Linked DNA regions of Homo sapiens. The protein of the gene in region 1 interacts with the protein of each later gene in a biochemical or structural test. Each region holds a gene or a part of one and is shown on either strand. Other genes may lie near its edges.

Region 1 (11,948 bases):
TTTTATGGCTGAACAGTATTCCGTGGTGTGTATATATACCACACTTTCTTTGTCCACTCATTGGTCAGTGGGCACTTAGGTTGGTTCCATATCTTTGCAGTTATGAATTGTGCTGCAATAAATATACACATGCAGATTTTTTTTGATATATTGACTTCCTTTGGGTAGATACCCAGTAGTAGGATTGCTGGATCAAATTCTATCCAGTAGCATTTGAAACTGCTTTACATTAACAATGAGGGACAAAAAAAATAACAATGAGGGCTTACATTATGCTACTCTTGATACTAGACATTTTCATATCCATTACTTCATTTAAACTCCACAACCAAATTACTCAATAGGGATTGTTTTCTTTATTTTTGTAAATGAATGTGGAAACCAGCTCATAAAACTTTAAATTCCTTGCCCCAGTGTCATAAAATTACTGAGTTTGAGTGGCAGTGCTGAGATTAAAACCTAAGGCTCTAGGATTTCCAGCCCATATTTTTTCTACTGTATCATGTTCTTTCCCAAAGCACTAAAAAACATTTCCTGGGTAAATGACTGTGGGCTTGGGGACACTATGCCCACTTTCTGGCCTTCATGGGTCTAAGTTGCTTCTTTGCTTCTTCACTTTTTCTCTCTGATCCTGCTCAGATTAATCTCTAGTAAATCAGATTTCTTTCCTAGGCTGTCTTATCCCACATATATAGTAGATAATATGTCACATATTTGTGAATGTTAAAAATATTTGTTTTAGTTTTAAATCTCAAGCTCACACAGTACTTACTCTCTATGTTAACAAAAATGGTTTTTACTATTTTCTGAAGGTAACGCAGCTGTTGAAGTGAGATCCTACACTGGAACATACAACACTTGGTCTAATATTAAAGTTCGTGCCAAGAGCTCTCTAAATGTGATTGATGGATTAATTCTGCCTTTATGAAAGATGAACTTATTTTCAAGATAATAGCTAATTCTTGAATGGGCAACCTATTATGTATCAATGATTGTAATGATGGAGCATTTTAGTCATTTGTAGCTGGAAGAGCCTTAGAGATTATCTGGTTCAACCTATTCAAGAGTTAGGTAATTTAACCAAATTAACATATGTGGCGATGTGCTCATATAGTGTTCCTTCCACTGTGCTGTGTTGCCGCATATATGCTGATCTTATGTTTATGCAGTAATAGTCTTCATAATGATAAACAGCTACTGGTTCCTGGTAGGATTTTGGACGTGGATATGACTTGAAGTATGATGCCACAGCCTCAAACAAATCTGGGGTTTGAATCCCAGCTCTGTCACTTATGGACAAATTACTTAACTTCTCCAAGTTTGTTTCCCTAAGTGTAGAATGTGGATAATATCTACTTTAAAGGGCTATTGTAAGCATTAAAATAAGATCATGCGTATAAATTGATGAGATGGTGGGGAAGAAGAGGCTACCACAAAGTAGGCATTCAGTGTAAATGGTGGTAGTTTCTCCAGTATTATTAGGCTATTTGGTTTCACTTATAAAATTGCCTTCAAAGAGTTTTTTCATGGCTTTTATGAGTATTATAATATCAGAACTTCCACTCATGCAAATGTAACATTTGTGTGTTAGTCTATTCTATAGCTCTGATCGGAGTCTTTATCTTAAATGGGAAAGATTATTTTCCCTGTCATGTAACTTTAACAGAAAACGATGCTAAAATTAATTTTAAGACTGCTCTATACTATATGTATGTTATACTATATTTTTATATACTATACACAAAAATGTATAAGATGTAAAGCTTGTATTTTCAAATGTTATTGCAGTATCCAGAACAATTGCGACAATTGCTCTTGGAAGCTTCTGTGCTTTTCCACATGCTGTTCCCTGTCTCTGGAATGGAATGTTCTCTTATTCTGGCTGGCAAACTCCTGAACATAATGTAAACAGTAAGCTCAAACATCACTTGCCCTTTCCTTACCATGCCATCCTGTTTCTTCTAAACCTTATAAATGCCTTTATTATAGTACATATTGAATCATAATGTAATTATTATTTATCTCTGACTCCTTTGATTCTGGGACTGCCTTGAGGTCACGGTCTAGGTTTATTTCATCTTTCTGTCTGTTTAGTCAAATTTCCTACCCTGTGTAACTCTCAGAATCTTACTTTAAGTTAGGAAAGGCCAGTGGCTGGACAGATGCTACAGACCTCCATTGGTACAGATGCCCTTAGCTTCATGTTGGGAACAAGTGGTTCTGTTTCTTTTTGTTCCTGTGGAGAAGCATCAGAGATACAGGCAGCTGGGGATTTCTACACCTGTAATAGCAGCAGCTCAGTGATGACACAGAGACATGTTTTTTTTTTTTTTTTTTTTTTGACAGAAGGCGAAGGGGAAGCAAGGTACTTCTTACATGGCAGAGGGAAAAGGAGAGTTGGAGTGGGGGAGGGGGAGAGGGAGGAGCAGGAGCAGGGAGACGGGGAGGGAGAGGAAACTGCCCCGAAGACATGGTTTCTAAGATTTCTCCCAATGAGACAAATCACTTGTCTGGGATGTCAGGGGGAGAAGATGCAGAATCTGAGCCCCTTGTATAAATAGACAAAAGGTGAAAGCATTGGCAATAGATCAAAAAGGCATTCCACGTAGCAAAAAAATTATTTTTAAATCTGAAAATTTAAGTGAAATGCCAAGAGCAAAGAAGAGAGGCCATCAGAAAAATTTCAAAGTGACTACTCAGGTCATTGTCCTGAAATAAATGATCATTTTATTCTGGTGACTCACCCCTAGCTAGAGTCAGTACTTCATAGAAAAGACAGGAGCTGTGAGACACTTAACTGTAATCTTACCCCTTTACAGAAATGCCTCCTATAGTCAAGCTGGTCTGATGATCTCATGTCATCATGCACAAGGATTAGCAAGCCTTGAAATTTTATCCTGTCAGTGTAACTCCTCATCTAGTCTCAAGATTGCACTGGCAGTTCTTTCGCAGCTGATCGTACAGGGAGGACCAATAAGGCTCATAGAACACCCTTGGAGAATGAATGCCTCTGCTGCTGGAGGTCACAGCACCCAGAAAGTGACTAGAGGGAGCAGCTGATACCTGCTCTAGTGAGTTGTGCTATTCCTGTCACATCCTTGCAGAGGTCCAAGGGTTGCTGGCAAGTGAAGGAATATCATGCCTGTAGTTTGAAGGATAGATCACTCAACTCTCAACTATTCTCTCTTCAGCTGTGAACCATACAACGTTTTTGAAAAGCAAAGTCTGAACATTTGCATTCTATACAGAATATTACAGTTGGAAAATAGGTGTGGTGTCTAGAGAAATGCTTCTAAATGCTGCAAGCCACCCTATGTGAAGCCTAGTCTAGAAATCTGCTTTGCTTCATTTATTAACTTCATTGTATCTTTGGAAGTAGAAGTTCTTAAAAGTGTGTACAGAAGATGAGTCCTCAGCATGAGTTTCACTGCCTGTCTGTGTGAGAGGAAGTGACCTTGAGAGCAGCTGTAGCCCTAGGGGGACACCCAGGTAGAGGTGCTCACAACATGCTCTGACACCCGGTATGGCTGCATTCCCAGCTTAAATGATCACATCTGCTCTTGGTTTTTTCACTGTTTACAAAATCTGATTTCTTTAAAGGGAAGGGATGGAAAAGGTAGTCAATGCTCCTCTGAGCACCCAAAGCATCCCTCCACAAGAACAAAGAGGAAAAATCATTACTTGCTCCCAACATTACACAAAGCGCATCTCTACCAATGGAACTCTGCAGTGTCGGTCTAGCCATCAGCCTTTCCCACCTCACAGCATATTTTCTGTGGGGGTAATTTATTAGAGGGGAATTTGTTCCTTTTTACTCTTTTTACTCTTCAAATTAGTAATAGAACCCCTCATGTCATTCTAAGTGACTTAAGTTTTAAAGGGAACCAGAAAAGGAGAGAATATGCTATTGTGGCACTTCTAAAATGCAGAGTGTCCTCAAAGATGGTTATAGTGGGTAATGGGTTTCATATAAATTGCATACTAGAGTATCTCCATTTCCTCTTTTAATTTTTTAATTGGTTTTTTAAAGCTTGATATGCTGAGTTAGTTTTCATTTAAAAACAATGCTTGAGTAGGAAAGTTAAAGAAATAGAAATTGCCTGTTTTAATCTATTCATCCTGGCAGCAGGTATGTATTGTATCTGTCCAGAGTCCAAAACGTCAGCTCCCTCCACTTGCCTTCCCCATTTCACATAAACTATAAAAGTTAGAAATAATATATTATGTCATATCCTAACATCAGTTCAATGAATATAGTTTTTAAAATACCTACTATGTGCTAGATACTGAGGACAGAATGATAAAATACAAAACAAAGCTAACTAAAAACACAGTTTAACTAGTCTTGTCTACGATTACCTGCCCTAACTATAACTTCATTTAAGGGGAGATACTGCTAAAGGGAGTTCCTTCTGTGACTGCACACTCTGATACCAATATGTGACTTCTCCCTGGCTACAACTGATTAAATGAGGGAAGAAAACTGATCCAAGGGGAGTTAGTCCAATAGCTTGTAAATGGTGGGTTCTTATCAGAGTTTTCTCACTAAGTTAGAACCAAGAGGCTGAGGGTTGTGGGGGCTACTTAAGCAGAAAGTTTCATGGAGTATGGACTGTGCACCATTGTGAAGTTTCCTGTATTTCCACAGGCTGTGGGGGCAGAGAGCATCAGAGTGCTGATCAGGAAAAAAGAATGAGGCAGATGCAGACAGAGAAGCAAAGAAGCATGAGAGGATGAGAATTAGGAAGTAGACTCTTTTTTCATTTTAATTAATTTGACTAGATTATATTTCTTGCAATCAAAAGGGCCCTGTGCAGAGAAGGTCCTTATCTTCGTTCATTTTTTGTTGCTATAGCTGAATACCCGAGACTGGGTAATTTATAAAGTAAAGAAATTTATTGCTTACCATTTTAGATGCTGGGAAGTACAAGGTCAAGGGTTCTCATCTAGTGAGGGCCTTCTTGCTAGTGGGGTCTCTGTAGAGTCCTGAGGTAACACAGAGCATCACATGGTGTGGGGGTGGGATTCACCAGAGAGAGCCAAACTGACTTTTATAACAGACTCACTTTTGTGGTAACTAACCCACTCCCTTGATAGCCCATCAATCCATTAATCTAGAAATAAATTCATTCACTCATGAGGGCAGAGCTCTTGTGAACCAATCACCTCCCAGAAGTCCCACCTCTCAACACTGCTGCACTGGGGACCAAATTTCCAACACATGAACTTTTCGGGGACACATTCAAGCCACAACAGTCCTCAATAAATATTTGTTGAATCAATAAATACACAGGACATAGTGTCCTAAATGCTTGGCATGTACATGAACCAGATTTGGTCCTTGATGTCACAGAGCTTATAATATAGTGGAGGAGACAGACTTTACATGTTTGATCTTGACTGTAAAACTAGGGTCACTACTCATCATCTGATGAAGGAGGCAGACAGTAAAACAAATAACAACTATTCAACATGGTAACGTCAAAACTGAACAGAGGCTCAAGTGAAAGTTTCAATGATAGTAACCATGGCCAATGGATAGGTGAATGCATTGGAAAATTAGTATGATGCCATTAGCAAAAACATAAATTGCACTTAACTAAAGTTCATCTGGCTGAATTCTTTCCTTCCTTCCTTCCTTCCTTCCTTCCTTCCTTCCTTTCTTCCTCTATCTTTCTTTGGTTTTGAGATCTGTCTATAGTATTGTGCTAGTGCACATATTTTAATTTGGTGCAAGGCATGCTTAACAGAGTAAGTGAAAAGCTATAAAGGTTAGAGCGTGTATTAGTTTCAATGACGAAGGAGTAATAAATCATTTTGTCAGGTTGCACTCTAACATTCAAATTCCATTTTTATTATGGCTAACTAGCCAAGCATTTATAATTCTGAACTCCACAGAATGGGGAAAAAGTGTATTAACTTATAATAGATCATTGAGCTTGTTAAATGTACCTTTCCTAATTCGTACTTTTTCCCTTTTGCTGAGAAAAATGCCTTTCTGAATATATAATTTTTACAGGTCATTGGAAAGGAGTACTGCACAACAGGATTATTATAATGTGCTAAAAGATGGCACTTGTATCTCATTGCCACATAGAGAGCTCATGTGAAAACTCTTTGATCTTTGCTGGCTTTTTAGCTGAAAAGATTTGGAAATCTTTTTGGCACTGGCAAAAACAGAACTGTGGTAACTGTTTATAGTTGGTTGATTTTTAGCAATGGGTAAGAATGTCTTTGTTGAATCCAGTTTATTAATACGTAATGGGCAACATGTTGCCTTAAAGGCAAAAGCATATTTTTCTCATATCAAAAAGCTCCCTAAATTTTTGCCAATATCCAAAGATATTTTAAGATGGTCTTCATTTTCTTTTTCAGTCTGTCCTATGCTGAGAAAAAAAAATTACAACCTCTGAACTTCAGCAGTTTTTTAGGTAAAAGGAATTTTTCATGATGTGATTGATATAACTACTCAGCTGGACATAAGCTTTCAAGGGCTAAGTCCATTTGCCGATTTGTTTGCATTTCCTACTCCAACTAAAATAATTCAAAGACATGAAGTGTCTATTGTGGAAAATGCATGAATAATGCAAAAGTCATTCTCAAGTGACCTATCAGAAAGGCCTACCAGAAATGCAGTTACTGCTTTCTAATAAAATCATGAAAAACTTTTTTAAAAAGTATAACCATCTTGAATTTGTTGAGGCAATTATAAGAGAGTATATAAGGGCAAGTTTCTCCAAAAGCGGTTCTGTTTGTTTTGTTTTTTTTTAATAATTCCCATCAACAGCAATCTGTTTTCTCATTGTAGTAGTATAGGTGTTAACATAAAAGCTCAAACAGCTTGGGAGAAAAAAAAGGATATAGCAAACCTAACTGATAACTTTGCTAGTTTCAAATCATTATGATGGCCATTCATAGATGACTGAAATATTTAACATTTGAAGTAACAGAATTTTGACTTATGTTTTCATGGTTTAAGAGTTTATATTTCAAATTTTTTCACATAGTCTGTTTATAACAGTATATAAAACATGTATTAACTATATAAGTTAATAAAGTCATGAACTGATGGCCATTTTTTGGTCTTATTCATATAGTATAGGCTGTTTTGTGAATTAATCCCCTTCCCATGTGTTTGAATTCCCCACTATGTAAGGCTTAGTGGTGTTAGCATGATCCAAGGGTGGGATTTTCAGCCCTCTGACATCAAAAGGTGAAGCAGAGGACACAAAAACCCTCACTGCATCTTCCCTAGACTGGCCAGAACCACTCCATGGTCAGTGGACTCCCTTAATAGGAAGGAATGCTGGTCAGTTGTCAAAGAGCAAAAAGGGAGGGGTAGTCATGAGGTTGGTTGTAATCAGAGGTGCAACAGGTCTTTCCAAAGGGCTGGTTTCTGTTTAACTCTTAGGAAAGAACACCTAATGGTAGTTAGTGAGGAGGGGGTATAATGAGATGTGCCCAACCTCCCATCCCATCATGGCCGGGAACTCAGTTTTTAAGGTTTCCCTGAAGTCCTCTTGGCCAGGAGAGGGTCTGTTTAGTCAAATGTGGGGGGGGAGCTTAGGATTTTATTTTTATTTCCAAGTTATAATGTTGGACCATCAGAGCATGAATACAGGTTGAGTCTTTAATCTGTAAATACTTAGCAATCACCTTCTTCTCAGTAACTTTCTCTGAAGGTTGCTGATAAGCCAGTGTTCTTGATGTTTGCCCACTTACCCCTCAAGATGAGGAGTGAAGAAATTAGATTGCATTGCCAGGAATTTCCTAGAAGAAAAGGTTTTGAGGATGCATGACCTATGAGGGTGCTGAGGACCCCTTTCCACCAAACATGGACTAACTTCTGGGTTGCTCTTTCACATCTATTGTCTTGTTCGACGTACACAGAAGTGCAGAGCACAGCCGCAGCCCTCACAGCATCATCTATCTAGGTTCTGAATCCTGAATGGTCTGAGGCTCTCCTAGAGCTGAGATTCTCCTTTGCAGTTCCAGTGGAGAAAAGCACTTTCTTTGCCGAGGCAGTGTAACTTCCTTGTTCCCAAGGCTCCAACTGTTGTGGGCACATATGAGTATACATTAACATCCATGCCCAATTTATAATCACTGTTTTCCCCACATGTGTACTCAGACCTCCAAGCTTCTGAAAAATATTTCCTCTCATCTCTCAAAGAATTTTAGTACATTTGCCTGGATGCAGAAACACAAATCATGCTGGCTTTCCTACTCAATCAAAAACTGTAGCTTGAGTGGGGTGGCAAGGGTTGTCCCACAGCAGGTTTACTTGGACTCCAAAATGATGTAGAGTTTAGTGAGGCAGCTCCTTGAGTTTGAACTTAGAGCCCTTTTGGCTACCAGGGCACCTGCAGTCCTCCAAGATAGTAGAGTCTGAACCAGTTAAAGAGCCAGCTACCACAGCTTTGCAGAAACCACTGTTTCTCCTTAACTCTAGGGCTCAGCGGTTGAACTCCTTAGAATAAAACTTTCTGTCTGCGACCCTATCATTTTCTTTTGTATTTTGGCCTTCACTGAATTCCCACCCCATCCATTCCAACAGACTTGGTTATACGTGTCTGAACACCAAATGTGACAGAATTTGTGGCCTTGGATCAGGAGGCTATTTGGCCCTTATCTAAATCGGTGGCTGAGAATGGATTCCAGGGAAGTGTTTTTCTTAGGAGTACCCAAGAAGCTCAGCTCAGGTTGGGCTCCCTGTTCTATTCTGAGAACTACAAATCAAATTCAAAATGGAGCACAGAAAATTCTCATTTCTAGTTGACTTATTTGTATTTTGGTGTCCTGTGCCCTAAATATCTTCTCAAGGAAACCTTGGCTTTAAAAGTGATTGTTTACTTAAACAAATAAAACAACAACATACAAGAAAAGGCAGTAAATCCGAGCGTCCATCAACAAATGAATCAAAAAACAAATGAGATATATATGTACGGTGGCATATTATTCAGCCTTAAAAAGGAAAGAAATTTTGACACATGAGACAATATGAATGAACCTTGAAGACATTAATTATGCTGAGTGAAATAAGCCAGCCACAAAAGAACAGATATTGTATAATTCCTCTTATATTAGGTACCTAAAATAGTCAAATTGATAGAAAGTAGAATGTTGGTTGGCAGGGGCTGGCAAGGAGAGGGAAATGAAGAGAAGGTGTATGAAGGGAACAGAGTTTCAGTTGGGGAAGACGAAAAAGTTCTGACAGTGGATGATGGTGGTTGTTGCACAGCAACATGAATGTACTTAATGCCACAGAACTGTATGCTTAAAAATGGTTGAAACGGTAAATTTGATATAATGTGTATTGAACCTATTTCCAGATCAAAACAGAGAGATCTACATTCCTTTTGGTGGTGTCAAAATAAACCATTATCTTGAAATAGCCTAAATGTGTTATGTGTCCTATTGAACAGTCCGATTGCATTCTTCAAAAAAATACAGTAGTGAACATCTGAATATATATATTTGAGCACTTGGATAAATATATATGCTTTAAAAAGTCCCAGAAATGTGGTACATTATCATATAACAGTTGTACCAGTTGACACTCCCATCTGCGATATATGATCCCTGTGTCCTCATGGTCCAGCAATGGATATTATCCAATTTTTTAACCTCTGTCGATTGGATAGATGAAAAATATTGTCTGAGTGAGGTTGAACATCTTTTTTGTATGTTTATTGACTTGTAAGAGGTCACTTATTAACAAAATGTACACATATTAATGAAATTGTTTTTGTCTATCACATATTTGGCAAATGTTTTCTAAACTTATCATTTGTCTTTATTTTTTTTTTAGCCATACAGAACTTTTAAATAGTTAGGCTGACGAACTATATCCAGTTTTTCAAGATTAAAAAAATTCCCCATTTTGGCCGGGTGCAGTGGCTCACGCCTGTAATCCCAGCATTTTGGGAGGCTAAGGCAGGCGGATTGCGAGGTCAGGAGATTGAGACCATGCTGGCTAACACGGTGAAACCCTGTCTCTGCTAAAAATACAAAAAATTAGCTGGGCGTAGTGGCGGGCACCTGCAGTCCCAGCTACTCAGGAGGCTGAGGCAGGAGAATGGCATGAAACTGGGAGGTGGAGCTTGCAGCGAGCCAAGATCACACCACTGTACTCCAGCCTGGGCAACAGAGCGAGACTCTGTCTCAAAAAAAAAAAAAATTCCCCATGTGGGTTTTATTCTTTTTTTTTTTTTTTTTTTTTTCTGAGAAAGGGTCTCTCTGTCCCCAGGCTGGAGTGCATGTCATGGTCTTGGCTCACTGCAGCCTCGACTTCTTGGGCTCAATGATCCTCCCCACTCAGCCCCTCAAGTAGGTGTTACTATAGGCGTGCGCCACCACCAACTAATTTTTATTTTTTTATTTTTTATTTGTAGAGATGGGGTCTCACCATGTTGCCTCATCCTGCCTTGTGCTCCTGGGTGCAAGTGATCTGCCCACCTGGGCCTCCCAAAGTGCTGGGATTGCAGACATGAGCCACTGCAGCCAGCCTAGGTCTAATATTTATATACATGTGTGCTTTTTCCTGGGGAAATAGTTTCTATTGTTTATCGGATTGTCAAATGGAAGGGAAAAAATTAAGAATAATTGCATTGCATGACATGTAAAATATTTGTTGAATGAATGCTTGCAGGAGACTGTATTTCCTCTTCAAAGATTTCTTTCAATCTCTATATACCATCTCTTCTTGAAAGATTTTTCCATTAGTAACTTCCAGTTAACAGTCTGTTGTTTTATTGTCAGATGTGTAAATATTTTAAAAATTGTTTCTTAGCACTTCCTGTTCCCTTTTTTTTGGAATCTTTCAAGTTTGAGAGGCAAAAGTACTCCTCAAGGCTGGAGAAGCTACTTGGTTGGGTTGTGGCCTACTGTGGTGCCATTGATTTCCCCAAACATTAAGTCCTTGCTGAGCCTCAGCCAAAATCAACAGCCGTCATGTCTTCAATTACCTTGGAGCCCAGGCTGCCACGGGGAAACAGGGGTCACATTCAGCCTTACTTGGCTCCTTAAGCAGCGACACTATCTGTGACTAAGCAAGTGACTGGTGCGATGGGGGAGGAGGGATGTAATGGTGGAGCTGTGAAAACTTGCAAATGTGATCACCAAACTTTTAATCAATCTAGAAGGAAGCTTTTTTTTTTCTCCCTAAGTATTTGAAGTGCCCACTGGTGTCTTTGGGGTTGGGGAATTAACATAACTTCCTTCTCTCACAGTCCTGTCTTCCAGTCTCCCAGTGGGGTTTCTCTTTGAAATAAGAGTTGTGTGTGTGGAAAGGATTCAGAAACAAGGCTTGGAAGCCAAGAAGAAAGGCAACCGGCCTTCCTCTCCAACGAGTAACCAAATACAGCTGTAACTTTAGACGGGGGTGCTTGGGAAAAGGATTTTTATTATTTTTTTTATTATTTTTTTAAAAGTAAGTGTACATTGCTGAGAAAAGAATCTAAAATGTAGCTTAGGAAATCTAGCTTTGATGCTATAGTTCAATATATTATGCAAAATTTAATAAGATAGCTGATTTTTTTTTCCTTAGGAAAAGAAAGCTCACAATTAACAACTGAAAAAAAAAAAAAAAAACCTAAAGGATAAAATACCAACTTAGAAATACAAACCAGAGATTCCCAACCATCCAGAAGGTACAATATAGCTACAAGCAAAAAGAAAAGGAAAAAAAGAAAAAAGCAAATTTTCAGGTCCAAGCATATTTTTGAAAACCTGTTTCCATTTCCTTCTATATTAACTAAAGTCAGTTTGAGCAACTATTAAAGGAAGTTAAAATTCTCTTGTGTTTTGTCTACCTGTGGGAACTATAACCAGACCTCAGTGGAAACAGGAAATGTACAATAAGTCCCCCTTTTATGACTGTAAGTGAATATATTTTATGGTGTTTGCAATAGCCTCTTGTAGGAGAAACAAGTAAATTAAATTTTTAC
Region 2 (11,948 bases), on another chromosome or scaffold:
GGAATCTGTGTTGACCTGGTCTCTCCAGAGTGTGTATTTGGGGCTCTGAACACCTTTGTCGGGGTCTGTGTCTGTCTGTCTGTGGGTCCTCGAAGCTGTGTTGGGTTTTCTGTCTGTGTTTTCCTCTCTGAGGACCCGAGTCATGTCTCTTCTCCGTTTTCTCTCTTTCATTCATCCCTGGCCCCCACCCATCCCACCTTTCTTTTTTTTCCGTTCTCACCCACCCCGCCCGCCAGTGGATCCGGGACCCAGGGAGGGCCGCCCCCCGGGCCTGGTGGCACTGAGCAGGGCCCCCCAGCCCCCACCTCCTGCCCCACGAGATGAACCTCCTCTACCGAAAAACCAAGCTGGAGTGGAGGCAGCACAAGGAAGAGGAGGCCAAGAGGAGGTAAGGCTGCACCCCAGACTGCTCCCTTCCCTTCCGCACCTCTGCCTGCCCCCTCACTGGGCCACAGCCCTTCTCGGGGGCCGGCAGCCTTGTCATGAGTGAGCTCTCTGATCTCAGAGTCAGTACGGAATGGCCAGGATTGCACACACTGTCCTGGCCCAACTCCTGCTCTCCTGTGGGGGGGTTTACAGCCTAGGAGCACCCCTTTGGTTGTTCCCCATCCCCAGAGGCCCGAGTCACTCCTTCCTGACTCACCTCTGGCCTGTAGCCCTTCTCCTTTCTGCAAATTTGGGGCTGGCTGCGGGCTCTCCTGTCACCTGACCTTGGAAGGGGCAGGCCCCGCCTCTCTCCCAGGGTCTAGGGAAGGGGTCATTTCAGGGGCATCAGAGAACATCCACTTGGCCTCCTCCCAGTTTTCCCTGCTGGGGGAGGTGAGTGGTCAAGTGATGGGGTTGTGTGTGTGGTGGGCAGACATGCAGGCTGGGCCTTGCCAAAGAGCCAGGGCAGGGGACGACCTCCAGACCCCTGCAATCCCTGTCTGCCTCCCCGCTTGCCCTTCCAGGGACCTGGGGCCTGGCCTCTCCCATCCTTCTCTCCTTCTCCTCTTCTCTCCCATTGACTTCACAGCCACTTGGAGCCTGACTCACAGCCACCTCCCTTTTCCTTCCTCGCAACTGTGGAGTTTAATTCTTGTTGTTAATTAGATTAATCAGAGTGATCGCTGCAGCGATCTCTCCCTAATGAAGGGCTAGTAGACAGGGCCTTAATGAGTGCCCACCCCACACAGCTCTCCTCTCTTCCCTGCCAGCCGCCCCCCCAACCCTCTGCCACCCTCCACTCAGACAGAAGCTCAGGGACAGTGGAATGGAATGGGGGTGAGCCGGGGAGGCTGACAGAGAGAGAACAGCACCAGGGGAGAGGGAGGAAGAAGGATGGGCCAGGGAGGGAGGCTGCTCTGGTCCTGGAGGGGCACATCCTGCATCTGGGAGAGGAGGTGTGCCGTGGGGGCAGAGGTCACAGTGGCTGGGCAGGAGGGGTAACCAGAGGCCAGGTGTGGGCCACTGTGAGAGTGAGAGGGGCCAAGGAGCTGTGGGGGGCAGGCGTGTCCATCTGTGTTACCTGGGTTTGTATCTCTACCTCTGCACAAGGCTGTCCACACAGGTGCCCAGGCTGGGATCCGCCAGCCCCAGGGATGCTCCCCTGCAGGCATACTCACCCCTCTTCTCATCCCTGCCCCCAACTGCCTTGTGTTTTTAAAGCCCAAGATTCTGCCTGAAGCCCCTTCATTGGTGCCCTGGACCTTCTGGCAACCCTGTCCCCACCCAGGCTCCCGTCCTCTTCCCTGGGAAGCCACAGGGTTGCTGACACCTCTTGGGGTGGAGAAGGGGGATGCCCAGGTCCGAGGCCCTTCCTCCACTCCATCGTGGCCTTCTCTCCCCAGCTCCAGTAAGGAGGTGGCCCCCGCTGGCTCGGCTGGGCCCGCGGCCGGCCAGGGGCCTGGGGTCCGCGTGCGGGACATCGCCTCGCTGCGGCGCTCCCTCAGGATGGGTTTCATGACGATGCCCGCCTCCCAGGAGCACACCCCGCACCCCTGCCGCAGCGCCATGGCCCCACGCTCCCTCTCCTGCCACTCGGTGGGCAGCATGGACAGTGTCGGGGGTGGCCCTGGCGGGGCCAGTGGGGGCCTCACAGAGGACAGCAGCACCCGAAGACCCCCTGCCAAGCCCCGGAGACACCCCAGCACCAAGCTCAGCATGGTGGGGCCTGGGTCTGGGGCAGAGACGCCCCCCAGCAAGAAAGCAGGTGAGATACCCCCTATCTCTCCCTGGGGTGGAGCTGGGAGCTGGGAGGATCTATTCCACGCCCGGGGAGGCTTGCCGGGAGGGTTCATTCAGGGAAGAACCAAGGAAGTGGAAGATTCCATTCTCAAAAGGAATTGGGGGGGTCCTTTTGGATGGGCCTGAGATGAACCATTCAAGGGCAGGGGACACTCCCTGAAAAGTTCTTGAGAAAGGGGTGGTGGCCTCAGAGGGACAATGAAGGTAGGAGCTGCGAATTCTGGAGAATACGTTAGAAAGACTGAGGGCTGTGGGACAAGCCCCGTGGCTCACGCCCGTAATCTCAGCACTTTTTTTTTTTTGAGACAGAGTCTCGCTCTGTTGCCCAGGCAGGAGTGCAGTGGTGCGATCTCAGCTCACTGCATCCTCCGCCTCCCAGGTTCAAGCAGTTCTCCTGCCTCAGCCTCCCAGGTAGCTGGGATTACAGGCGTCCGTCACCACGCCCGGCTAATTTTTTGTATTTTTAGTAGAGACAGGGTTTCGTCTTGTTGGCCAGGCTGACAAGGCCAGGCTTGCTGGCCTCAGGTGATCCACCCACCTCGGCCTCCCAGAGTGCTGGGATTACAGGCGTGAGCCACTGTGCTTGGCCAATTAATTGACGTTTTAAAAAGACCAAGGGCTGACTAGTAGAAAAGGAACCTACAGCTGGGCATGGTGGCTGATGCCTGGAATCCTAGCACTTTAGGAGGCCGAGGCAGGAGGATCCCTTGAGCCCAGGAATTTGGGACCAGTCTGGGCAACATGGCAAGACCCATCTCTATTAAAAAATAAAAAAGAAATGAAGAAACCTCCTGGGGCTGTAAGTTGAGGAATGTGGGGAAAAGGAAGAGGCAGATATGTCCTTGCAGAAGGGTCAAGGGATCAGAATGGGCTCCTCCCACTTGCTCCCCTCATTAAAAGCCTGGTTTATTTTTCTCTTTCTTGTCCTGTCCAGGCTCACAGAAGCCAACCCCAGAGGGCCGAGAGTCCAGCCGGAAGGTTCCTCCGCAGAAGCCCAGGCGAAGCCCTAACACCCAGCTCTCTGTCTCCTTCGATGAGTCCTGCCCCCCAGGCCCCTCTCCTCGAGGGGGGAACCTGCCTCTTCAGCGCCTCACTAGGGGGTCCCGAGTAGCTGGGGACCCTGATGTGGGTGCCCAGGAAGAGCCTGTGTACATTGAGATGGTGGGGGACGTCTTTAGGGGAGGAGGACGAAGTGGAGGAGGCCTGGCTGGGCCCCCTCTTGGGGGTGGGGGCCCGACCCCTCCAGCGGGCGCCGACTCGGACTCTGAAGAGAGTGAGGCCATCTATGAAGAGATGAAGTACCCGCTGCCGGAAGAGGCTGGGGAAGGCCGGGCCAATGGCCCTCCACCATTGACGGCAACATCCCCGCCACAACAGCCTCACGCCCTTCCGCCCCATGCCCACCGCCGCCCAGCTTCAGCCCTCCCGAGCCGGAGGGACGGGACGCCCACCAAGACCACTCCTTGTGAAATCCCCCCGCCCTTCCCCAACCTCCTTCAGCACCGGCCTCCACTCCTGGCCTTCCCCCAAGCCAAGTCTGCTTCCCGAACCCCTGGCGATGGGGTCTCAAGGCTACCTGTCCTCTGCCACTCCAAGGAGCCAGCCGGCTCCACCCCAGCTCCCCAAGTGCCTGCACGGGAGCGGGAGACGCCTCCCCCACCGCCTCCACCTCCTGCTGCCAACCTGCTGCTGCTGGGACCATCGGGCCGGGCCCGGAGCCACTCGACACCGTTGCCACCCCAGGGCTCTGGCCAGCCCCGGGGGGAGCGGGAGCTCCCCAACTCCCACAGCATGATCTGCCCTAAGGCGGCGGGGGCGCCGGCAGCCCCCCCTGCCCCGGCCGCCTTGCTCCCCGGCCCCCCCAAGGACAAGGCCGTGTCTTACACCATGGTGTACTCGGCGGTCAAGGTGACCACGCACTCTGTCCTGCCAGCTGGTCCACCCCTGGGTGCTGGGGAGCCAAAGACGGAGAAGGAGATCTCGGTCCTCCATGGGATGCTGTGTACCAGCTCAAGGCCCCCTGTGCCAGGGAAGACCAGCCCCCACGGTGGGGCCATGGGCGCAGCAGCTGGGGTCCTCCACCACCGCGGCTGCCTGGCCTCCCCCCACAGCCTTCCGGACCCAACTGTAGGCCCCCTGACCCCGCTGTGGACCTACCCAGCCACAGCAGCTGGGCTCAAGAGACCCCCTGCCTATGAGAGCCTCAAGGCTGGGGGGGTGCTGAATAAGGGCTGTGGTGTGGGGGCCCCATCCCCCATGGTCAAGATCCAGCTGCAGGAGCAAGGGACCGATGGGGGTGCTTTTGCCAGCATCTCCTGTGCCCACGTCATCGCCAGCGCAGGGACACCAGAGGAGGAAGAAGAGGAGGTGGGCGCCGCGACATTTGGGGCAGGCTGGGCCCTGCAGAGGAAGGTCCTCTATGGAGGGAGAAAAGCAAAGGAGTTGGACAGTGAGTGAGGGGTGGGGAGTGGGGGCTGGCATCAGGGGTGGGGGGCAGCTGGGGATGCCTGCGATGGTTTGGGGGAGGTGTTGGAGGGGTTATTTGGAAGTCACAGCCTTGAGTCTGGGATGTTTTCTAGGAGACCAGAGAGGTGGGGGTGGGCGATAGACAGAAAGACCGGGGTCCCCCAGTGTGCGCTGGAGGGGCAGGAAGGTCTGGGAGGCGAAGGGGGTCAAATCTGGCCCTGTCCTGCTCTGCTCCCTGCCCCTCCCTTCCCGGGGCTGCAGGGGTGTGTGCTTGTGAGTGTGCGCACCAGGAACTAAACACAGCTGCCTCCCAGCTGTTACCATGGCAACCCATCCAGACAGGAGGGAGAGGAGAGGGAGGCCCCTACCGTTGCCTGGCAACGCAATGCTCTGCCAGGCCTCCTCTCAGAGATGAGCTTAGTTCACAGGCAGCCCTTCCCCCCAGCGCTCCCCCTTCTGGGCTCAGGAATTGGGATTCTCCCCCTACAGGTCTTGATCCCAGGGGGATGGTCATTCTCGCCCTATCTGGAGATGGAGGGGCTTGGAAGCTAAAGCTGCGGTTGGGGAGGCCCCTCTGACCAGGGAAAAGGGTTTGGATGCAGCACATAGACATGATTCTCAGCCCCAAGAGATGGTACCAATGGGTGGAAAGGAAGGGGTGTGTGTGTGTTTGTATGTATGTTGGGGGAGTGTGAAGGAGCCCCATCCCAGCCGTTACTTGCAAAAGGGGCAATTGTGTCTCCTGGTCCACCCATACTGCAGCATGTGTGGCCAGAGGGACAGAATGACGCCTCCAACATGCAGGCACACAGCTCTCCTTGTCATCCCAGCAGAGGTCGAGGACGGTGCCCGGGCCTGGAATGGCAGTGCCGAGGGTCCAGGCAAGGTGGAGCGTGAGGACAGGGGCCCTGGGACATCGGGGATCCCAGTGAGAAGCCAGGGGGCAGAGGGACTGCTGGCCAGGATCCACCATGGAGACCGAGGAGGGAGCCGCACCGCGCTGCCCATTCCCTGCCAGACCTTCCCCGCCTGCCACCGCAATGGAGGTGACGCGGCCTGCACACACCTGTGCACAGCGGGGCTGGCTGGGGGATCTCCCGGGGTCTAGCTGCACCTGTCCTGACTTCCTCTCACCTGTTCACGTCTGTGCCCAGGGCCCTAAATCCTCATACCACATCTCCACCCCTTTTTCCCTTCTGATGAGGCAGGGGCAGCCTGGACCATTCAAGGGCAGGGGACTGGGAACTAGGGGAGGGGTACCTGAGGCCCCTGCACTCCTCACTCCTCCTTCTTCCACCTCAGACTTCACGGGAGGCTACCGCCTGGGGCGCTCCGCCTCCACCTCCGGAGTCCGGCAGGTCGTGCTCCACACACCCCGGCCCTGCAGCCAGCCCAGGGATGCCCTGAGCCAGGTGAGGCTTGGTTTTTCTTTTATTTGTGAAGGAGCAGGTGGAGAAGGCTTGAATATGCAAAGAAAAGCAATAAAGGGGCCAGGGCTGGGCACAGTGGCTCATGCCTGTAATCCCAGCACTTTGGGAGGCCAAGGTGGGAGGGTCACTTGAGGCCAGAAGTTCATTAGCTTGAGCAACATAGTGAGACCCTGTCTCTATTTTTTCTTTTTTTTAAAAGAAGGCTAGTTGCAGTGGCTCACACCTGTAATCCCAATGCTTTCAGAAGCCAAGGCAGGTAGATTGCTTGAGCCCAGGAGGTCGAGACCAGCCTGGACCACATAGTGAGATCCCATCTCTATAAAAAATGCAAAATGTAGTCAGGTGTGCCGTCGCAAGCCTGAATTCCCAGCTACTCTGGAGGTTGAGGTAGGAAGATGGCTTTACCCTGGGAGGTGGAGGTTGCATTGAGCCATGATCACGCTACTGCGTTCCAGTCTGAGCCACAGAGTGAGACCCTGTCTTAGAAGAAAAAAAAAAAAAGAAAGAAAGGGGCCAGGCAGGGTGCGGTGGCTTACGCCTGTAATCACAGCACTTTGGGAGGCCGAGGCGGGCAGATCACTTGAGGTCAGGAGTTTGAGACCAGCCTGGCCAATGTGGTGAAACCCTGTCTCTACTAGAAATACAAAAATTAGGGCCAGGTGCGGTGGCTCATGCCTGTAATCCCAGCAGTTTGGGAGGCTGAGGCGAGTGGATCACAAGGTCAGGAGTTCAAGACTAGCCTGACCAACATAGTGAAATCCCATCTGTACTAAAAATACAAAAATTAGCCGGGCGTGGTAGCGCACGCCTGTAGTCCCAGCTACTCGGGAGGCAGAGGCATAAGAATCGCCTGAACCCGGGAGACGGAGGTTGCAGTAAGCCAAGATCGCACCACTGCACTCCAGTGGCCTGGGCAACAGAGAGAGACTCTGTCTCAAAAAAAACCAAAAAACAAAAAACAAAAACCCCACAGAAATTAGCTGGACATTGGGGCAGGCACCCGTAATCCCAGCTACTCGGGAGGCTGAGGCAGGAGAATTGCTTGAACCCGGGAGACGGAGGCTGCAGTGAGCCAAGATCATGCCACTGCACTCCAGCCTGGGCGACAGAGTTAGACTCTGTCTCAAAAAAAAAAAAAGGGGCCAGGCAGACTGGGGCCTGAGCCAGCGCAGACAGCGGGAACCCAGGAATGAGAGTGAGGGGGTTGGGAGAGGATCTGGGAAGGGTTTGAGGGTTTGCTTAAGATGGGCAGCAAGGTAGGGCCCAGCTTGGAGATCAGTCAGGGCCACCACTAGCCAACAGCACACCTTTGTGCGATTTAGGAAAAAGACCTCCCCACTGGGCACTATGTCTTGTGCCTGCAATCCCAGAACTGTGGGAGGCAGAGACGGGAGGATCGCTTGAACCCAGGAGGCTGAGGTTGCAATGAACTACGATCCCACCACAGCACTCTATCCTGGGTGTAAGGGCAAGACCGTGTCTCAAAAGAAATAAAAATAAAGAGGTCAAGCATGGTAGCTTACGCCTATAATCCTAGTACTTTGGGAGGCCGAGCCAAGAGAAGTGGTTGAGCCTAGGAATTCTGTACCAGCCTGGGCGACATAGGGAGACCCTGTCTTTACAAAAAATTTAAAAATTATCCAGACATGCTGGTGCATGCTTGTGGTTCCAGCAACTCTGAAGGCTGAGGCAGGAGAATCACTTGAGCCTGGGAGGTGGAGGTTGCAGTGAGCCATGGTCGTTCCACTGCACTCCAGCCTGGGTGGCAGAGGGAGAACCTGTCAAAAGAAAGAAAAAGAGAGAGAGTGAGAGAAAGAAGGAAGAAAGAGAGAAGGAGAGAAAGAGAGAAAGAAAGCAAGCAAGAAAGAAAAGAAAGCAAGAAAGAAAAGAGAAAGAAAGAAAGGGAGGAAAGGAGGAAGGGAGGGACCTTGTCTACCCTTGCCCCAGCTGGACACGGTAGTTGATACCTGTGATCCCAGTGCTTTGGGAGGCCAAGATGAGAGGATCCCTTGAGGCCAGGAGTTCAAGACCAGGCTTGGCAACAAAGCAAGATCCCATAAATACAAAAATAAACTTTAATTTAATTTTTTAACAATTAGCTGGTGTAGTGGTAAATGCCTGTAGTCCCAGCTACTTGGGAGGGAGGCTGACACTGGAGGATTGCTTGAGCCCAGGAGGTCGAGGCTGCAGTGAGCTATGATTGCACCACTGCACTCTGGCCTGGGCGACAGAGCCAGACCCTGTCTCAAAAAGACAAAAGAAAGAAAAAAAAGGGGAGATCCCTTCTAGGGGGACCAACTTAAAAAATGCACCTGTCTAGGAAGACTAGGGAGTGGCTGGGCCAAAGCTGCGCAAGTTGGATTTTGGCCCCCATGGGCCCCACAGCCAGAGGGAGCCAGCAGAGGCCGTTGGGGGGCAAGCAAGGACTTGCTTCTGAGGGGAGACGTGGGTCTCGGCAGTGCGGACCCGTCCGGTCATGCTGAGGTCCCCGACCTTACCCGCGTTTTCCTTTCTCCCCCGCCCGCGGCACAGCCCCACCCCGCGCTGCCGCTGCCTCTGCCCCTGCCGCCCCAGCCGGCCCGCGAGCGTGACGGGAAGCTGCTGGAGGTGATCGAGCGCAAGCGCTGCGTGTGCAAGGAGATCAAGGCGCGCCACCGCCCGGACCGAGGCCTCTGCAAGCAGGAGAGCATGCCCATCCTCCCCAGCTGGCGGCGGGGACCCGAGCCCCGCAAGTCCGGCACCCCGCCCTGCCGCCGGCAGCACACGGTCCTCTGGGACACCGCCATCTGAGGCGGGCGGGGGGGTACCGGGGCGCCTGGACTGGGGAGGGGGCGGGCACGCCTGGCTCTCCCGGGAGCCTCGCCTTGAGAGACATTGAAAGACTACGTGGGAGAGTGCCAGGGAGAACCCCTGCCCTCCAACCTACCCCCCGGGATGGGGAGAGTCTGCCAGGCCCATTGGGCTTAGGATGCCAACAGCGCTGCTGAGAAACGGAGGAGGAGGAGGGTTTGCTTGAGGTTGGGGCGAGAGTCGCTCTGGCTGTTCTTCCCGCTGGGCGTTGTACACCCCTCCTCCTGAACCAAGCCAGAGGTCAGCATGGGGAAGGGAGGAAGGAAGGGATGGGAGGAAGAGGGGGGTGGGTGAGCTGAAAGAGAGGGACTAGAGTGCCAGATGGAGGAGCTCTTTTCTAGAGAGCCGGGAGTTGGGGAGGGGGTATTTATTTTGTTATTTATTTCAGTCTGGAGGGCGATTCTGGGCCTTTCTGACCTACTCCTGAGCTAGGAGTGGAGAATCAGGGCCAAGTTTGCACTCTCCCCAATGCCAATGCCTAAAGGCCCCGCCGTCCATGCCACCCCACAGCCAAGGAGGGGTCTGCATGGGGAGTGGACCGAGAGAAGAAGGGGCCCAGGGAAGCAGAGGGCCCAAGACCATTCACAGTATTTACAATTTGCCAGAATTTGGTAGTCAGTGTGGCCTGCTCTGAATCAGGCATCTTATTTAGTTCTGGGGTGAGGGTCTAGTGCCAGGGATGGGCAGGATGATGGGGGAGGAGGAGGGAAATTTTAGCGGGTGGAGGGGGTGGGCAGGGTATTTATTTAAATTAAAAAACAAAACAGAAGAGATGTCAGGAACTTTTTTTTAATTCCTTTCTTTTCAGAATAATATATTAAAAGACTCATGATCCTAAAGCTGGCTTCTTCTATTTCACAGCGTGCTCTGCTATTCTTACACTTGCTCCTTTTCCCATCTTGCCCCTGGTTGGTGGGAGTTGAAGGTTGTGCGGGGAGGGGTGAGTAGCTGTGGCCAAGTCACAGGGCGAGGTGGAGTTCCAGGTAAGTCTTTGGGAATGCACTGGGCCATGACTCCATTAGCATTTTTTTTGTGCACAGAATGTGTTCTTGGCATTGCACTGATGCAGAAGGAATATTTGGGCATGAAGCTTGCCTTCAAGTACCTTGTGATCTACTCAGATGACCTCCACTGAGATGACAATAAACTGTTGAAGGAGTAAGAGAGGGGGGACAGGGCCAAGCGTGGTGGCTCACACCTGTAATTCCAGCACTTTGGGAGGTCGAGGTGGGCAGATCACCTGAGGTTAGGAGTTCAAGACCAGCCTGACCAACATGGTAAAACCTTATCTCTACTAAAAAAAAAAATACAAAAATTAGCCGGGTGTGGTGGCGATATATCCCAGCTACTTGGGAGGCTGAGGCAGGAGAATCACTTGAACTCAGGAAGTGGAGGTTGCAGTGAGCTGAGATCATGCCACTGCACTTCAGCCTGGGCGACAGAGCGAGACTCTGTCTCAACAACAACAATGAAAGAAAAGAAAAAAGAGGGGGTACAGGGCTGGAATCATCTAAGAAGGCTTCCTGCAAAGTTACCCTAAAAGGACAGGTAAGCTAGTCTGGGCAACATAGAGAAACCCCATCTCTACAAAAAATACAAAAATTAGCCAGGTGTGAAGGCATGCGCCTTTAGTCCCAGATACTCAGGAAGCTGAGGTGGGAGGATGGCTGGAACCTAGAAGGCAGAGGCTGCAGTGAGCAGAGATCATGCCACTGCACTCCAGCTTGGGCAACAGAATGCGATCCTGTCTCAAAAAAAAAAAAAAAAAAAAGGACAGGTGAAGTTTGGGGAGGGGAAGAGGCAAACTCCCAAGGTCACGGTCATGGTTTTGATTGTCTATGGAACAGTAGGAGATGGGGGCAGGGGGAGGTAGGAAGTATGTTTAAATGATGGTGATGGCATTAAGAGGTCCAGCCATGGGACAGATCACCTGAGGTTGGGAGTTCGAGACCAGCCTGACCAACATGGAGAAACCCCGTCTCTACTAAAAAATACAAAAAAATTAGCTGGGCATGGTGGCGCATGCCTGTAATCCCAGCTACTCAGGAAGCTGAGGCAGGAGAATCGCCAGAACCCGGGAGGCAGAGGTTGCAGCAGTGAGCCGAGATCACGCCATTGCACTCCAGCCTGGGCAACAAGAGCGAAACTCCATCTCAAAAAAGAAGGGGGTCCAGCCATGGTGAAGCGGGCCACAAGGCAAGACTCAGGTCCTCACTAGGGAAGCCAGGGGAATCCTGCTGGGAGGTGATCTGTCACCAGGGAGGAGGATAAGGAGGATGCCTGGGAGGATGGAGGGCTAGGGACAGTTGCAAGAGGCCACTGAAAGGAAACCTTAGGATGGGAGTGAAGGAGCAGAATTGGTCATACAAGAAGCCCAAGTTTGGAGGTCTGGTGATCGGGGAACTGACAGAGTGAGGCAGGTGGGCTTGAGAGTGACTTTGGAGGAAGAACATTGAATTTGAAGCAATGATGAATATTTAGGTTGAATGGTTTGTTACTGAATAGAACAGAGTTTCGGAAAATGTGGTGGATAGCCAGACGTGGTGGCTCACGCCTGTAATCCCAGCACTTCGGGAGGCCCGAGGCAGGAGGATCACTTGAGGCCAGGAGTTCAAGACCAGCCTGGGCAACATAGAACCCCCCATCTCTACAAACAATAATAAAAAAAAATAGTTGGGCTTGGTGGCACACGTTTGTAATCCCAGTTACTCAGGAGGTTGAGGTGGGAGGATCGCTTGAGCTCAGGAGGTCAAGGCTGCAGTGAGCCATGGTTGCTTCACTGCATTCTAGCCTGGGCAACAGAGTGAGACCCCGTCTCAAAAAAAAAAAAATGTGGTAGATGCCACAAGAGATGTTTTTACACTTTATGAAGAAGAGCATTTTTTTTTAAACTGTAATAGTTTTGTATTTATTTTCACTTATATTAGAAAAGTTATAACCAATACATAAGGCTACTTGTTATTTCATGAATGTGAT

Evidence for each region.
Region 2: the proteins of NCKAP1 (region 1) and NYAP1 form a complex in vitro, tested with the Homo sapiens proteins (one study listed by BioGRID).

Annotation. Positions count from the first base shown.
Region 1 is NC_000002.12:182,906,563-182,918,510, reverse strand, and holds the end of NCKAP1 (nck-associated protein 1), read left to right. Parts: 3' UTR 1-9,396; downstream 9,397-11,948. UniProt on the Homo sapiens protein: Part of the WAVE complex that regulates lamellipodia formation. The WAVE complex regulates actin filament reorganization via its interaction with the Arp2/3 complex. Actin remodeling activity is regulated by RAC1.
Region 2 is NC_000007.14:100,484,992-100,496,939, forward strand, and holds the end of NYAP1 (neuronal tyrosine-phosphorylated phosphoinositide-3-kinase adapter 1), read left to right. Parts: intron 1-236; 5' UTR 237-320; coding exon 321-388; intron 389-1,829; coding exon 1,830-2,191; intron 2,192-3,160; coding exon 3,161-4,675; intron 4,676-5,525; coding exon 5,526-5,738; intron 5,739-5,994; coding exon 5,995-6,104; intron 6,105-8,654; coding exon 8,655-8,912; 3' UTR 8,913-9,811; downstream 9,812-11,948. UniProt on the Homo sapiens protein: Activates PI3K and concomitantly recruits the WAVE1 complex to the close vicinity of PI3K and regulates neuronal morphogenesis.